Homo sapiens: one gene and its partners. The protein of the gene in region 1 purifies or fractionates together with the protein of each later gene. This does not show direct contact. Each region holds a gene or a part of one and is shown in the gene's direction. Other genes may lie near its edges.

Region 1 (3,500 bases):
AGACAGTAAAACATTTTCATCCTGCCTTTTATATGTATTTTAGAATGTTTTAATGATAGAATTTTCAGATGATATAATAGGATATTTTCTACTGAGAATAACACAAAATAATTTCAATTTGTTTTGTCTGTTTTTTTTTTTTTTTTTTTTTTTGAGACGGCGTCACGCTCTGTCACACAGGCTGGAGTGCAGTGGCGCGATCCTGGCTCACTGCAAGCTCCGCCTCCCGAGTTCACGCCATTCTCCTGCCTCAGCCTCTCGAGTAGCTAATCTCGTGTAGCGCTACCGCGCCCGGCTGATTTTTTTTGTATTTTTATTAGAGATGGGGTTTCACCGTGTTAGCCAGGATGGTCTCGATCTCCTGACCTTGTGATCCTCCTGCCTTGGCCTCCCAAGGTGCTGGGATTACAGGCGTGAGCCACCGCGCCCGGCCTGCCTTGTCAGGTTTTTTGCAGGGAGGTTTTTTTATCAAAGAAATGAGCCTTTCACTTGTCTGGTTCTTTTCCTGGAATAGGAACTTTGTGGATGTAGTGAAAGATCTCAAGGTGAAGTTGAGATCCTCAACTTAGAGCCTTTAGGTGGGCCCTAAATCCAGTGAATGGTGTCCTTTTAAGGAAGAGGAAGGGACACAGTCACATACAAAGGAAAAAGTCCATGTGAAAATGGAGACGAGATCAGTTACTGCTGCCACATGCTATGGAATGCCAGAAGCCACCAGAAGTAGGAAGAGGCAAGGAGGGATTCTTCCCTTTGGATGTAGCATAGCTCTGCTGTGACCTTGATTTTAGATTTTGGGCCACCAGAACTATGAGAGGAAATTTCTGTTGTTTTAAGCCACCAAATTTATGGTAATTTATTAAGGCAGCCTTAGGAAATGAATGCAAGTTCCCTTTTATCCTAACTTTTCAGACCCATTTTGATTTCTTTATTCAAGTTTCCACTTACAGAGTCTACTGTACATATGTTTACACAATCAGATCCTGTCTTTGGCTCATCTCTGATTGTTTCATGAATCTAGAAAGCAGTTATTCTGAGGCTTTAGTGTGTTATAAGTAGAGGCTCTTGAAAAGCTTCTTAAAAGGTCTGGGCTCAAGTATTTAAGAATATTTAAAAAGTTTTGTGTTCTGCTTTTGATATTTTGTTTTGCTTAGACTTAGACTTGATGTAACTAAATTTGTTTATATAACCTATGTTATCTTTTCATTCAGAAAAGTCTTTGAAAATCTTTAAAATGGCCGGGCGCGGTGGCTCACGCCTGTAATCCCAGCACTTCGGGAGGCCGAGGCAGGTGGATCATGAGGTCAGGCGTTCGAGACCAGCCTGGCCAGCATAGTGAAACTCCGTCTCTACTAAAAATACAAAAAGTTAGCCGGGCGTGGTGGCAGTGGGCGCCTGTAATCCCAGCTATTTAGGAGGCTGAGGCAGGAGAATCGCTTGAACCTGGAAGGCGGAGGTTGCAGTGAGCCAAGATTGTGCTACTGCACTCCAGCCCGAGAGACAGTGCGAGAGTCCGTCTCAAAAAAAAAAAAAGAAAATCTTTAAAATATTTCATATTACCACTGGCGTGTCTTTAGGAAACGCCATGTGAGGCTATTAATTTTTCTTAACAAAAATGTGTACATTGAGACTTCATTTAATCAGCTGTTTAACAATCCTCATCTGTCAGAACTTTGCTAAGAAATAATAAAAATATAAGCAGTCAAAGTACATATTTTGAAGGCCAAGCACTTTATATAGAAGAGAATCTCTATGGCTTTTACTCAGTCTGTATGCTTTTATAATTCCAGTAAGTTTGGTAATTTGATATTTTTTATAAACGAATCCTTCAAATCATTTTCAAAAGTGTAACTACAACAATAAAATTTACTGTGATACGGGGCCCGGCGTGGTGGCTGGCGCCTGTGATCCCAGCACTTTGGGAGGCTGAGGCGGGCAGATCATGAGGTGAGGAGATCGAGACCATCCTGGCTAACACAGTGAAACCCCGTCTCTACTAAAAATACAAAAAATTAGCCAGTCGTAGTGGCGGGCGCCTGTAGTCCTAGCTACTTGGGAGGCTGAGGCAGGAGAATGGTGTGAGCCCGGGAGGCGGAGCTTGCAGTGAGCCGAGATTGCGCCACTGCACTCCAGCCTGGGTGACAGAGTGAGACTCTGTCTCAAAAAAAAAAAAAAAAAAAAAATTTACCGTGATACTCTTAGCTGAAGATAAATAACTACTGTTAACTTTTTGAAAAACAACTTTCTGATAAATGATTTACATACTATAGTATTTACTTTTTTTGAGTGTAATGATTTTTGGTAAATTTACTGAATTATGCAGCCATCAGCATAAATCCAGTTTTAGAACATTTCTATTACCTCAATAAAATCTGTAGTGCCCTTGTTGTCATCCCTAGCTTCTGGCATTCACTAATCTATTTTCTGTCTTTAGAGTTGCCTTTTCTGGACATTTCATGAAATGCAGTTATACACAGGTGGTCGTTAGTGTCTGGTTTCTTTCAGTATGTTTTTGAGGTTCATTCATGAAGTTTGTATCCACACTTCATTTCCTTTTATTGATGAATAGCATTCCATTGTTTAGATATCCTATATTTTGTTTATCCATTTACCAGTTGATGGATATTTGGGTTGAATGAATAATACTGCCATGAATATTTGTGTATAAGTCTTTGTGTGGACGTAAACTGTTATTTGTCCTAGGTAGACAAACTGGGAAGGGAATTGGTGGGCCACTTGATAAATTTATGTTTAACTTTTTAAGAAACTGCTAAATTCTTTTCCAGCCTACATACCCACCAGCAGTGTATGAGGCTTCCCGTTTCTTCAAATTCTCACCAATATTTGTTACTGCCTTTTTATTTTTAGCCATCCTAGTTGTTATGATGAAGTGTTACTTCATTGAAACACTGTTAACTTTTTGAAGTACAGATTAAATATCCTTTATCAGAAATGCTTGGGATCAGAAATGTTTTCAATTTTGTTTTTTTTTTTTTTTTTGGACTTTGGAATATTTGCATATACATAATGAAATATCTTGGGGATGAGATTGAAGTCTAAACACAAAATTTACTAATGTTTCACATCCACCTTATACACAATCCAAAGGTAATTTTATGCACTATTCTTTTTTTTTTTTTTTTTTTTTGAGACGGAGTTTAGCTATTGTTGCTCAGGCTGGAGTGCAGTGGTGCGATCTCAGCTCACTGTAACTTCCGCTTCCCAGGTTCAAGTGATTCTCCTGTCTCAGCCTCCCAAGTAGCTGGGATTACAGGCATGCGCCACCATGCTCAGCTAATTTTGTATTTTTAGTAGAGATGGGGTTTTGCCATGTTGGCCAGGCTGGTTTCAAACTCTGACCTCAGGTGATCCGCTGACCTTGGCCTCCCAAAGTGCTGGGATTACAGGCATGAGCCACTGCACCTGGTCTTATGCACTGTTGTTAATTTTGTGCATGAAACAAAATTTTGACTGTGTTTTGACTGTGACCCATCACGTGAGAT
Region 2 (3,525 bases), on another chromosome or scaffold:
ACAAAAACTTGTACATAAATGTTTATAGCAGCATTATTCATAATAGCCAAAAAGTAGAAACAACCTAGATTTCCGTCAGCTGATGAATGGATAAATAAAATGTGCTATATCCATATAATGGAATATAAAGTCATAAAAAGGAATGAAGAGGAATAAAGTCATGAAAAGAAATGAAGTACTGAGTCATGCTACAGCATGGATGAACCTTGAAAACATTATACTAAGAGAAAGCAACCAGACGAAAAACCACATCTTGTATTATTCCATTCATGTGAAATGTCCAGGTGAGGCAGATCTATAAACACAATATAGATTAGTGGTTTCCAGAATTTTGAGGGGAAGGATAATAGGGAGTGACAGCTAATGGGTATGGGATTTCTTTTTGGAGTGATGAAAATATTCCAGAACTAGATAATGGTGATGATTGTACAATTTTGTGAATATAGCAAAAAACACTGGATTGTGTACTTTTAAAGAGTGAATATTATGGTTATGTGAATTATAGCTTTAAAAATTAAAAACTAGGCCGGGCGCAGTGGCTTATGCCTGTAATCCCAGCACTTTGGGAGGCCGAGGCGGGCAGATCACGAGGTCAGGAGATCGAGACCATCCTGGCTAACACGGGGAAGCCCCGTCACTACTAAAAATACAAAAAATTAGCCAGGCATGGTGGTGGGCGCCTGTAGTCCCACCTACTCGGGAGACTGAGGCAGGAGAATGGCGTGAACCCGGGGGGGCAGAGCCTGCAGTGAGCCGAGATCGCGCCACTGCACTCCAGCCTGGGTGACAGAGCGAGACTCCGTCTCAAAAAAAAAAAAAAGAAAAAAGAAAACCATCCACAACCCAATCTAAAATTTAAATTGGGCTAGGCACTGTGGCTCACACCTGTAATCCCAGCACTTTCGGAGGTCAAAGCAGGCAGTTCACCTGAGGTTAGGAGTTCAAAACCAGCCTGGCCAACATGGTGAGACCCCTTCTCTACTAAAAATACAAAAATTAGCTGGGTGTGGTGGCGCATGCCTATAATCCCAGCTACTCAGGAGGCTGAGGCAGGAGAATCACTTGAACCCAGGAGGCAGATGTTGCAGTGAGCTGAGATCGCGCTTCTGCACTCCAGCCTGGGCGACAGAGACTCCATCTCAAAAATAAATACATTAATTAATAAAAAAATAAAATTTAAATTGCATAAGAACCTTAGATTTGGGCCAGGCACGGAGGCTCATATCTGTGACCTCAGCACTTTGGGAGGCCAAGGGTTGCGGATCACCTGAGCTCAAGAATTTGAGAACAGCCTAGGCAATATGGCGAAACCCTGTCTCTACAAAACATATAAAAATTAGCCGAGTGAAGGCAGGGCGCGGTGGCTCACGCATGTAATCCCAGCACTTTGGGAGGCCAAGGCGGGTGGATCACGACGTGGTCAGGAGATCAAGACCATCCTGGCTCACATGGTGAAACCCCGTCTCTACTAAAAATACAAAAAATTAGCCGGGCATGGTGGTGGGCGCCTGTAGTCCCAGCTACTTGGGAGGCTGAGGCAGGAGAATGGCGTGAACCCGGGAGGCGGAGCTTGCAGTGAGCCGAGATCGCGCCACTGCACGCCAGCCTGGGTGACAGAGCGAGACTCTGTCTCAAAAAAAAAAAAAAAAAAAAAAAAAATTAGCCGAGTGTGGTGGTGTGTGCCTATAGTCCCAACTACTTGGGAGGCTGAGGTGGGAGGATGTCTTCAGCCCAGGAGATGGAGGGTCCAGTGAGCCGAGTACGTGCCACTCCACTCCAACATGAGTGACAGAGCCAGACTGTGTCTCAAAAACAAACAAAACCCTTAGATTTATAAACATAAAGCTTTGAGTGCCTTAAAGTGGATGTTAGAAAGAAACACTGAATGTGATGAGGGTGGAGAAACAACAGAAATCACTTCCTTGTCAATGTCGGCACATGATACCAGATGTTTGGATTTCTGCTTGCTGGGTATACCTCATTTTTGCTATGGTTACTATTCTTTGGTTTCCCTAGAAGCTTTGGATAATTTTTAGGAATTAGTGTTTATATTTTAACATAACTTTTAGTAGTGGAATTATGAGAACATCCAGTTAGCATTTATCAATTGAATTGTTTTTTTGAAGCAGAGTCTCACTCTGTCGCCCAGGCTGGGGTGCAGTGATGTGATCTTGTCTCACTGCAATCTCCGCCTCCCAGGTCCAAGCAATTCTCCTGCCTCAGCCTTCCGAGTACCTGGGATTACAGGCGTGTACCACAATGCCTGGCTAATTTTTGTATTTTTTTTTTCCACTCTGGCTAGGCTGGAGTGCAGTGGCGCGATCTCAGCTCACTGCAACCTCTGCCTCCCGGGTTCAAGTGATTCTGCCTCAACCTCCCGAGTAGCTGGGATTACAGGCAGCCACCACTACGCCCGGCTAATTTTTGTATTTTTAGTAGAGACGGGGTTTCACCATGTTGGTCAGGCTGGTCTCGAACTTCCAATCTCAAGTGATCAGCCTGCCTTGGCCTCCCAAAGTGCTGGACAGGTATGAGCCACCACCCCGGCTTAATTTTTGTATTCTCAGTAGAGATGGGGTTTTATCATGTTGCCCAGGCTGGTCTCGAACTCCTGGTCTCAAGTGACCCACCCACCTCAGCCTCCCAAAGTACTGGGATTACAGGCGCGAGCTACCACAACCGGCCTATCAGTTGAATAGTAAAAAATAATTTTTTTTTGAGGCGGAGTCTCGCTCTGTTGCCCAGTCTGGAGTACAGTGGCGTGATCTCGGCTCACTGCAACCTTGCCTGGCTAATTTTTGTATTTGTATTTTTATTTTATTATTATTATTATTTTTTTTTTGAGATGGAGTCTTGCTCTGCTGCCCAGTCTGGAGTACAGTGGGGTGATCTCGGCTCACTGCAACCTCCACCTCCCGGGTTCAAGTGATTCTTCTTCCTCAGCCTCCTGAGTAGCTGGGATTACAGGTGCCTGCCACCATGCCTGGCTAATTTTTGTATTTTCAGTAGAGATGGGGTTTCACCATGTTGGCCAGGCTAGTCTTGAACTCCTGACCTTATGTTCTGTCTGCCTCGGCCTCCCAAAGTGCTGGGATTACAAGCATGAGCCACTGTGCCTGGCAATTTTTGTATTTTTAGCAGAGACGGGGTTTCACCATGTTGGTCAGGCTGGTCTTGAACTCCTGACCTCGTGATCCACCCGCCTCGGCCTCCCAAAGTGCTGGGATTACAGGCGTGAGCCACCGCGCCCAGCCTAAAGCATAAATTTTAAGTTATTGCAGAATAAAATGCATTATTAGTATGTCAATTTAATGCTCTTTATCTTTATTTCTCATGTTTTAAACTTAGCTGCTTTCTCTTTTCTCTAAGAAGCAGAAACTTGTGAAACAATTGCCTTTAACTTCTATATGCTTAGAAACAGATTCACCTGCACTAGGACCAGAAAAACAGGTAAATGGTTTTCTAATTTCTATATTATTTAGATTGTATCTTTCATTTGAGTTCTTTTCAATTTAGCTGTATTTC
Region 3 (3,525 bases), on another chromosome or scaffold:
GACAAGCCTCAGGTCCCAGCTGGCTGCTGGCTGGAGACGTTCTTTTGCTACCACATGGACCTCTCTATAGGGCTACTAACAAAACAGAGTGCTTCATGCAGATGTTGCAGCTTGCTGTCCTTGGAGCAAGGGCTAAGATTGAAAGATAGCAAAATAGAAGCCAAGGTCTTTTTGTAACCTGATATCAGAAGTGATATCCCATGGCTTCTGCTGTGTTCCTCATTAGAGACAAGTCACTAGTTTCAGCCTAATTCAAGGGGAAGGGATTACACAGTGGGAGGAATACCTACAGGAACCAAATCATTGAGAGCCACCTGAGATACTGCCTGCCACAATATAAGACATCAGAAGCTGTTTGATAAAGACTCAATTCAGTATCACCTCGTGGTTTTATCTCATAGTAATGTTCTCAGACTGAAATTAGATAATCTGTCAAAGAATTTGTAAAATATAAAGCTCTATACAATATCAAGATTTTATTAGTTTTATTAATGCTGAGAATCCAGTTCCACTTTATAGATAGTGATATAAGAACAGCAAATCAATGATTAAGAGATGTGAATTTTACACCTTGCTGTGTGTGTGACCTTGGAAAAGCCATTTATTTGTTTCATACCTTAGTTCTCTCATGAAAGTGATGATAATAACAGACTTACCAGGATAAAATAGATAATAGACAGCCATGCAGCACATTGACAATATTTTGGTCACCCACAAACCACATATATGACAGTGGTCCCACAAATTATAATGGAGCTGAAAAATTCCTACAGCCTAGTGACATCATCGCTATTGCAATGTTGTTGTAGCACAATGTATCGCTCATGTGCTTGTGATGAGGCTGGTGTAAGCAAACCTGTGCTGCCAGTTGTATAAAAGTATAGCACATACAATTATGTATAGTATATAATACTTGATAATAAACAACTGTTACTGGTTTATACATTTACTGTACTATACTTTTTATCATTATTTTGGGGTGTGTTCCTACTTAATTAAAAAAAAAAAGTGAAAAGAAGTTTAACTGTAAAACAGCCTCAGGCAGGTCCTTCAGAAGGTATCCCAGAAAACAGCATTGTTATTACAGGAGATGACAGCTCCATGCATGTTATTGCCCCGAAGGACCTTCCAACGGACAGGATGTGTAAATAGATACAGTGATACTGATAATCCTGAGCCTGTGTAGGCTAAGGCTAATGTGTCTGTATCTTAGTTTTGTTTGTTTGTTTGTTTGTTTGTTTGAGACAGAGTCTCAGTCGCCCAGGCTGGAGTGCAGCAGCACAATCTCACCTCATTGCAACCTCCGCCTCCCAGGTTCAAGCAATTCTCCCACCTCAGCTTCCTAGTAGCTGGGATTACAGGCACTCACCACCATGCCCAGCTAATTTTTTGAATTTTTAGTAGAGACGGGATTTCACCATATTGGCCATGCTGGTCTTGAACCCCCGACCTCAAATGATTCGCCCGCCTCAGCCTCCCAAAGTGCTGGGATTACAGGCGTGAGTATCTTAGTTTTTAACAAAAAAGTGTGAAAAGGAAAGAAAAAATTTAAAGTTTTAAAAATAGAAAAAAGTTTATAAAATAATGTTATAAATAATGAGAATATTTTTGTATAGCTATACAATGTGTTTTAAGCTAAGTGCTATTACAAAAAGAGTCAAAAAGGTTTTTTTAATTTAAAAGTTTGGGGGTTTTTTGTTTTGTTTTTGTTTTTGTTTTTGTTTTTTTGAGATGACGTTTCTTTCTTGCCTCCCAGACTGGAGTGCAGTGGCGTGGTGATCCCAGTTCACTGCAACGTCCGCCTCCCCAGTTTCAAGCAATTCTCCTGCCTCAGCCTCCCAAGTAACTGGGATTACAGGCATGTGCCACCATGCCCAGCTAAATTTTGTATTTTTAGTAGAGATGGGGATTCACTATGTTGGCCAGGCTGGTCTCAATCTCCTGACCTCAGGTGGTTTACCTGCCTCGGCCTCCCAAAGTGCTGGTATTACAGGCATGAGCCACCACACCCGGCCTAATTAAAAAGTTTATAAAGTAAAAAAGTTATAGTAAGATAAGGTTAACTTATTATTGGAGAGAGAAAAAATGGTTTTTACAAATTAGGTATAGCTTAAGTGTACAGTGTTTTTAAAGTCTACAGTAGTGTACAGTAATGTACTAGGCCTTCATATTCGCTCAACACTGACTCACTGACTCACCCAGAGCAGCTTCTAATCCTGCAAACTCCATTCATGATAAGTTCCCTACACAAGTATCCCATTTTTTATCTTTATACCATATTTTCACTGTACCCTTTCTACGTTTAGATACACAAATACTATTGTGTTACATTTGCCTACAGTATTCAATACAGTAACATGCTGTCTGGCTTTGTAGCCTAGAAGCAATAGGCTATGCCACATAGCCTAGGTGTGCAGTAGGCTACACCATCTAGGTTTGTGGAAGTACACATCTTGATGTTCACACAATGATGAAATGGCCTAACAATGCATTTCTCAGAATGTATGATGCATGGCTATATATAAAATTATGCTGAAATCTAAAAAAATGAGATGATGGTCATAATGACAATGATGAAGATGACTATATGTTTCAGCTTCTACTCCATGGTCCTTTGAGGACAACTGAAGTAACTAGATATGATTTTTGTCAGTTGTGTTTTAAGTGTATGTATCAAATCCAGCTACCCCAAGTTTTACAATAACTTTATATGGTTTAATCTTATCTTGCTGAACACATTAGATATGCTGCCCTGAAAAGTGGCTTGCAAACAGAATTTTTAGAAACTGAACCATAATTAAAATGCACAGAGGCCGGGCACGGTGGCTCACACCTGTAATCCCAGTACTTTGGGAAGCCAAGACAGGCGGATCACCTGAGGTCAGGAGTTTGAGACCAGCCTGACCAACATGAAGAAACCCTGTCTCTACTAAAAATACAAAATTAGCCATGCGTGGTGGCACATGGCTGTAATCCCAGCTACTCAGGAAGCTGAGGCAGGAGAATCGCTTGAACCCAGGAGGCGGAGGTTGTGGTGAGCCGAGATCGCGCCATTGCACTCCAGCCTGGGCAACAAGAGCGAAACTCTGTCTCAAAAAAAAAATGCACAGAGAAGGTTTCCATGTATCTAGTGGAATTGTACAATGCTTATGTGATCTTGTGATATCATTAATATTTTGTAATATAAATAATTATCCTCATTATTTTAATTTTCTGGCATTGTAGCAACACCTGTATAAATATTTATAGTTACTTAAGAACTCACAAAACAACCTTTTGAAGTAGGCAAATAAAACCAACTCTTGGTTATCTCAAAGAGTTCTTTTTGTTTGATTCTTGTGTTATCTACATTTCTTCTCTCACTGTAAATTGGCATAAATTTGGCAGATACAAAACAAGTAAAGTTCAAACTCCTCCACTCAACCACTTTAAGGGATTTTTTTTCCTGCTTATAAGTATATCACATGTTCATTGTAGAAAATTTGGAAATGCAGAAAAGTATAAAAAATGTAGTTAAAGTTACTC
Region 4 (3,525 bases), on another chromosome or scaffold:
ACTCTTCTAACCACTTTATTAATTCATTTAATTCTCACACCAACTCTATAAGGCTTTAGTGTTGTCAGTTTTGGCATGCTGAAGTTAAAACTCAGGGAAGGATTCTAAATGACCCAAAATTAAATATAGTATTTTGCTCATATTTTTATGCTTCTGTTGCCTATCCTGACTTACAGCTTCATTGCTCAAAAAAGATTATACTAGAATCACTTTTACATATTTTAGCTTCTCTAAAGTTGGTTTCATAAATAGAAAAAAGCACATATAGGCTTAAAAGTATATGCCTTAAAGGCATTGTTTGCTGCTTTTACTCTCTGCCTTTTTTCACTTTCTCTCTCTCTCTCTCTCTCTCTCTCTCTCTTTTTTATATAGAGGAATTACAAAATACTTTTGTTGAAATACACCTTAATCATCATCTAATCCAACTAACCTTTGGAAGCCGTGGGTAGCATATTCTCCCATAATTGTAGTCACTACTAACTTGTCAAACTATCTATGCTTAATTACACTTGCAGGGCTATTCCATTCATTTTTTAACTTCTCTTACTATTACAACCTCTTCCTTCTATTGGGTAAAAATATGTTATGTGATACCCCCCAAGCAGTCTCAGTTTTACTCTCTGGGCCATAACATCATAATGTCTACTAAAAATGTTTCATACATTACATTTCTGCCACATGGTTAGCTTTCTGCTAGCTTTCTGAGGAAGAGTACATTTCTAAAGACATTGCATGTGTGATCATGTGTCCGTCTCTCACATTTGAGAGTTCAGAAATGTCCTTCAGAGTTTGAAGGCATTGCTTCCATTTCAGTGAGAGATCTGAAGCTATTTCAGTGCTTAATCTTTTGTTTATGATCTCTTTTTATCCCCAACTCCCTGGACATGGATAGGCATTTTTCTTTGTCTACAGGGTTCTGAAATTTCAGTGATGTCCTTTAATGCGGGTTTCTTTCCATCCATTATACTCTTCACTCAGAATGCCCTTACAGTCTGTAAACTTACTCCCCTCACTTCTTGGATCTTTTCTTGAATAATATCTTAGATTTCTCCTCTGCTGCTTCTAGTGTTCTCTCTGGAGCAACTTTTGATTCTCCAATTTCTAAAAATCTTTTTTTTTTTAAATCTCCTTTTTTGAATTTTTGGGCAATTTCCTCCAGTTTATATAATAACCTTTCTATTGAGTTTTTTATTTTCTACACTTTTGAAATGCGTTCGGTACTAATTTTAAAAGTCTGCAATGTGGCTGGCAAGGCTGGTCTTTCTACTCTCCAGCTTGTTTCCTTCATTCTCTGTTTAGGTCCCACTAGCTTTCCAAAGTTTTAAAAAGCCACGTTTTCTCTTGTTACAGGGCCTTTTTGCACATGCTATGTAGCATTTCTATCCCATTTTACTTAGTTAACTCCTATTTATTTTTTTCATTGACAACTTATTGATTACATCCTCAAGCCTTCCCAGATCACATTAGCCAGGCCAGACCTCATTATATGCTTTCATGATTCCATGCACATTTTGCATTCTTTCCAATCAGACCACTAATGCAGCAGTCATGCATGTTTTTATCCCCAGTGCTTATTAAAAAGAACCCGTCACGTAATAGCCGCTCATTAAATATTTGTGTAACAAAAACAGAACGAATACGTAGGTTAAGTTCAACCAGAGGGATGGTATTTACTGAGAGTAACGGGGAGCCAGGATTTGGAACTCTGAGGAAGAATTGAGAGGGATCAGGTAAAGGAAGTACAGCCCCTGAAGGAGACTGAAAAGAACCAGCCAAAGAGGAGAAAGGGACACTTAGAAAGCACAGTGTCATGAAGCATTTTAAGCAGGAAAGAATGGTTAGCATTGCCAAAATAGGAGCAAGCAACATTGGGCTTGAAAAGGGGCTAATGGACTAATAAGAAAAGTAATTAATAACTGAACAGCCTCAAGGTGAATGGAAGGAAGGTTAAAGAAGAAGTAATGAAATAACGTGTGTAGATAACTCTGGAGTTTAGTTGTGAAGGGAAAGAAAATGATACCTAGAGAAGAGCATCAAAGTCAGATCTTTTTGTAGTTTGCTTTTTTACTTTGTTTTTACTTAACCCATTTATGCCTAAGGTTGCAATTTTTTGAATTTTTGCAATCAGACCTTGGCGATGACCTTGAACAACAGGGTATAAGTAACTCCCACATGCTTAGTGTTCCAGTAATGGAACACAGAAGAAACAGCATACAGCATTTAAATGAAGAGAGAGAAGATTTTTAAAAACTAGGAGTTGGGCAGCATAATTATTAATATAATTATTAATAGGTATCAGTCACATGTCCTTTTCAAGTACCAGAGACCATGCCAAGCATTTTACAGTCAGAAGCTAATCCCTGTAATACCTTACAGATATAATAGATATCGTCATCTGTCAAATGGTGATCTGTTTTATAAATGAGGGAACTGAGGCATGCAAGAGGGGGTAGAATCTAGAACCCTGATAGGAGTAGCCGCAGTAACTCCTCCATGTTTAAAGGAGGGCAGGGTGCCAGGATGGGTGTGGGTGCAAATGTATTTAGTTGAGGCGCGAGCATGGCATTAAAGAACATGGGCTTGGGAAACCGTAATGGCAGATTTCAGTTTATAGCCCAGCTCTGTTAGCTTTATAAATCCCAGAAAGTGACAGTTTCTTTCAGCTTGTTTCCTCTTCTTTAAATGGGGATAATAATAGGATTACAGGATATTAGCATGATCATTGTGATTAATATAAGTAAACAGTGCCTGAACACTGTTGGTGGGAATATGAATTAGTACAGCTATTATGGAAGTTCCTCAAAAAACTAAAAATAGAACTACCATGTGATCCAGCAATCCCACTAGTAGGTATATATCCAAAGGAAAGGAAATCAGTATGTCAAAGAGATACCTGTACTCCAGTGTTTATTGCTGCACTATTCATAATAGCCAGAATATGGAATCACCCTAAGTGTCCACTAATAGATGAATGGATAAAGAAAATGTGGTATATATACACAATGGAATACTATTCAGCCATAAAAAATAATGAAGTCCTTACATTTGCAGCAACATGGATGAACTGGAGGACATTAAGTGAAATAAGCCAGGCACAGAAAGATAAATACCACATGTACTCCCTCATGTGGAAGCTAAAAAGGTTGATTTCATAGAAGAGTATAGAATAGTGGTAGGTAGTAGAGGATGGGAAGGGTAGGGGGAGCAGGGATAGGGAGAGGTTGGTTAATGGATACAAAAGTACAGCTCGATAGGAGTAATTCTAGTGTTCTATAGCTCTATACGGTGAGTGTAATTAACAATTTATCGTATATTTTCAAATAGCTTGAAGAGCAGATTTTGAAAGTTCCCAACGCAATGATAAATGTTTGAGTTAATGGATATGCTAATTACCCCAATTTGATCATTACATATTGTAAACATATCAAAATATCATGTACATCATAAATATGTGTAATTGTGTGTCAGTTTAAAATAATAATAAAAGCAAAAACATAAGTAGTAATGGAAGGCAAGGTCCTTTGA
Region 5 (3,525 bases), on another chromosome or scaffold:
TGTTGGTCAGGCTGGTTTTGAACTCCTGACCTCAGGTGATCAGCCCGCCTCGGCCTCCCAAAGTGCTGGGATTACAGGCATGAGCCGTCATCCCTGGCTGGTGGTTTCTTATGACGTGAAACATGCAATTACCATATGACCTAGCAGTTGCACTCTGTATTTATCCCAGATAAATGAAAACTTACCTTCCAATAAAAACCTGTGCACAAATGTTCATAGCAGCTTAATATTGAAAAACTGGATGTTCTTCAGCAGGTGAATGAACTGGTTCATTCATACCATGGAATACCATTCAGCAATAAAAAGGAACAAACTGTTGATACATTTAACCACCTGGATGAATATCAAGGGAATTATGCTGTCAGACAAAAACCAGTCCCTAAAGACTACATATAGTATGATTCCGTTTGGATAATATTCTTGAAATAGAGAAATTAAGAGAAATGAAAAGATTAGTGTTTGCCAGATGTTAGAGACAGGGAGGTGAGAGGGGTAAGTGGGTGTAGTTATAAAAGTGCAACATGAGGGATCTTTGTGATGTTGAAGTTGTATCTTGGCAGTGGATGCAGAAATCTCAATGTGATAAAATTACAAAGAACTAAAAACAAGAATGAGTATAGATAAAACTGGGGAAATCTGAACAAGTTAGAGTGTTGTATCACTGTCAGTATCTTAGAGTGATATTGTACTATAGCTTTGCAAGATGTTACCATGGGAGAAACTAAAGTGTACAAGGGATCTCTAGGTATTATTATTTTTTTAGAGATGGGGTTTCACTATGTTCCCCAGGCCGGTCTTGAACTCCTGGGCTCTAGTGATCCGCCTGCCCCAGCCTCCTAAAGTACTGGAATTACAGGCGTGAGCGACCATGCCTGGCCCTTTCAGTATTGTATCTTAGAACTTCATGTGAATCTAGCATTATCTCATAGAATTTAATTAAAAGAAATTGTAAACCTCACAGAAGATCAGAATTTCCTCAAGTTTGTGATGTTGACAAAGATGAACTAGTTGACACTGACAGTAAGACTGAGGATGAAGACACGACGTGCTTCAAAAAAATGATTTGAATATCAATGGATTAAGAAGAACTCTTTTGACAAATTGATGAAACCCTCAGTCAGTTTTATAAGAATGCCCATCTTTATGATCATGCTATGAAAGCCAATTTTTAAAAAAATTTTTTGTCTTTCCTAACAATTAGCTTGTGGTTATAATTTAAATTTAGTTAAATATAAGATAAATGATTTTTTATTAAGTTTAGTTTCATTTTTCAAGGTACGATCTCAAAGCTACTCTTTAACCTACTATGAATGAATAATGCTGAGTTCATAACATCTTTGTAGATATATCCACAATTTTCCCTCAGGATAAGTGCCTACAAGTGGAATTACTGGACTGAAAATAATGCAGTTTGCTAAGACTTTGCTATCTGTTCCTGAATGCTCCTCCAAAAAGGTTTTGCCAGTTTACATCCTCATGACCAGCGAATGAGAGTGTTGCCTATTTTCCTGTGCCCTTGTTACTGCTTAATAATTTTTGAAAAAAATCTAATTTGACAGACAAAAATGCATTTTATGTTAATTTGCTTTTCTGGGATTTTTAATGAGGTTGAGTATAGTTTTTAATATTTTTATTGGCCCCTTTGGAACTAGTATCATAAGTTTTTTTTCTTAAGAATTTATGTAGTCTGGGCTGGGCGCAGTGGCTCACGCCTGCAATCCCAGCACTTTGGGAGGCCGAGGTGGGTGGATTGCCGAAGGTCAGGAGTTTGAGACCATCCTGACCAACATGGTGAAACCGAATCTCTACTAAAAGTACAAAAACTAGCTCAGCGTGGTGGCGGGTGCCTGTAATCCCAGCTACTTAGGAGGCTGAGTCAAGAGAATCGCTTGAACCCGGGAGGTGGAGGTTGGTTGCATTGAGCCGAGATCGCGCCATTGCTCTCCAGCCTAGGCAACAAGAGTGAAAAGTCTCAAAAAAAAAAAAAAAAAAAAAAAAAAGAATTTACATGGTCTGAATTGCCATTAAAAGAGATATGAGAATTATTGAGTAACAAATAACTTTTTAATAATTTAGGCAAGTTTTGGACGATTGTACTTTGTTTAGAAACCAAAAGCATAGTATTTGTAGTTTTTTTATTTACTTTAGTTGCTAGGAAGTAAACTTTATTCAAGGTCTCTGGTACCAGTTGTTGCTAAAAGTGATTGACTAATCTGTCAATCTGAAATTATTTGTTGCTGAACTGCTAATTCTTTTGCTTCTATCTTTTAGGCAGATCTTGTCTGGACTACCAGACTCAAGAGACCAAATCAAGCCTTTCTAAGACCCTTGAACAAGTCTTGCACGACACTATTGTCCTCCCTTACTTCATTCAATTCATGGAACTTCGGCGAATGGAGCATTTGGTGAAATTTTGGTTAGAGGCTGAAAGTTTTCATTCAACAACTTGGTCGCGAATAAGAGCACACAGTCTAAACACAGTGAAGCAGAGCTCACTGGCTGAGCCTGTCTCTCCATCTAAAAAGCATGAAACTACAGCGTCTTTTTTAACTGATTCTCTTGATAAGAGATTGGAGGATTCTGGCTCAGCACAGTTGTTTATGACTCATTCAGAAGGAATTGACCTGAATAATAGAACTAACAGCACTCAGAATCACTTGCTGCTTTCCCAGGAATGTGACAGTGCCCATTCTCTCCGTCTTGAAATGGCCAGAGCAGGAACTCACCAAGTTTCCATGGAAACCCAAGAATCTTCCTCTACACTTACAGTAGCCAGTAGAAATAGTCCCGCTTCTCCACTAAAAGAATTGTCAGGAAAACTAATGAAAAGTGAGTATGTGATTTTCTTGTGTGTACATATGTGTCTCACTTTCTTTTTTTAATTTACTAAGCAGAACTTCAGATGAGGAATAAAATGATTGGAATATTTTTTTTCTCCTCTAACTACTTGTAAATTTGGGAGAATTTGGAGAGTGTAGTAGAGTCAGATCAGTGTATGGAAAAGGAGCAGGAGTGACTGGACCTTCTAAGAAGTGTGTTATCAGAATTAGTAAATGAAGGGTCAAATGTCCTACTTTTCCCCTCCACTGATTTTGACATCAAACCATTATCCACATAGCCTTATTTCCTCCCTCGGTCTTAATTTTATTAATATTTTACTGCACTTTGCAGATAAAATTTTTAAAAAATTTTTAAAAATTGCCAATAAGTGACATTTATTAAGTTCAGTGCTTAGTGTATATTTGGATTTTATTTATTAGTCACAAGACCTTTGTGCAGGTAGTAGGCATGATTATCTTTTTTTTTTTGAGATGGAGTCTTGCTCTGTCGCCCAGGCTGGAGTGCAATGGCGCGGTCTCGGCTCACTGCAACCTCCGGGTTCATGCCATTCTCCTGCCTCAGCCTCCCAAATAGCTGGGACTACAGGCGCCTGCCACCACACCCGGCTAATTTTTTTGTATTTTTAGTAGAGACGGGGTTTCACCATGTTCGCCAGGATGGTCTCGATCTCCTGACTTTGTGATC

The links.
Region 2: the proteins of ARFGEF1 (region 1) and TATDN3 purify together in Homo sapiens (affinity purification with mass spectrometry; one large-scale study listed by BioGRID and IntAct). This does not show direct contact.
Region 3: the proteins of ARFGEF1 (region 1) and HTR1E purify together in Homo sapiens (co-immunoprecipitation; one large-scale study listed by IntAct). This does not show direct contact.
Region 4: the proteins of ARFGEF1 (region 1) and BORA purify together in Homo sapiens (affinity purification with mass spectrometry; one large-scale study listed by BioGRID and IntAct). This does not show direct contact.
Region 5: the proteins of ARFGEF1 (region 1) and AKAP10 purify together in Homo sapiens (affinity purification with mass spectrometry; one large-scale study listed by BioGRID and IntAct). This does not show direct contact.

Annotation. Positions count from the first base shown.
Region 1 is NC_000008.11:67,333,782-67,337,281, reverse strand, and holds part of ARFGEF1 (brefeldin A-inhibited guanine nucleotide-exchange protein 1), read left to right. Parts: intron 1-3,500. UniProt on the Homo sapiens protein: Promotes guanine-nucleotide exchange on ARF1 and ARF3. Promotes the activation of ARF1/ARF3 through replacement of GDP with GTP. Involved in vesicular trafficking.
Region 2 is NC_000001.11:212,808,879-212,812,403, forward strand, and holds part of TATDN3 (deoxyribonuclease TATDN3), read left to right. Parts: intron 1-3,348; coding exon of another isoform or gene 3,349-3,369; coding exon 3,370-3,450; intron 3,451-3,525. UniProt on the Homo sapiens protein: Exhibits 3'-exonuclease activities and apurinic/apyrimidinic (AP) endonuclease (in vitro). Show preferential AP endonuclease activity on double-stranded DNA substrates and 3'- exonuclease activity on single-stranded DNA.
Region 3 is NC_000006.12:86,944,024-86,947,548, forward strand, and holds part of HTR1E (5-hydroxytryptamine receptor 1E), read left to right. Parts: intron 1-3,525. UniProt on the Homo sapiens protein: G-protein coupled receptor for 5-hydroxytryptamine (serotonin). Also functions as a receptor for various alkaloids and psychoactive substances.
Region 4 is NC_000013.11:72,748,399-72,751,923, forward strand, and holds part of BORA (protein aurora borealis), read left to right. Parts: intron 1-3,525. UniProt on the Homo sapiens protein: Required for the activation of AURKA at the onset of mitosis.
Region 5 is NC_000017.11:19,957,318-19,960,842, reverse strand, and holds part of AKAP10 (A-kinase anchor protein 10, mitochondrial isoform 1 precursor), read left to right. Parts: intron 1-2,271; coding exon 2,272-2,829; intron 2,830-3,525. UniProt on the Homo sapiens protein: Differentially targeted protein that binds to type I and II regulatory subunits of protein kinase A and anchors them to the mitochondria or the plasma membrane.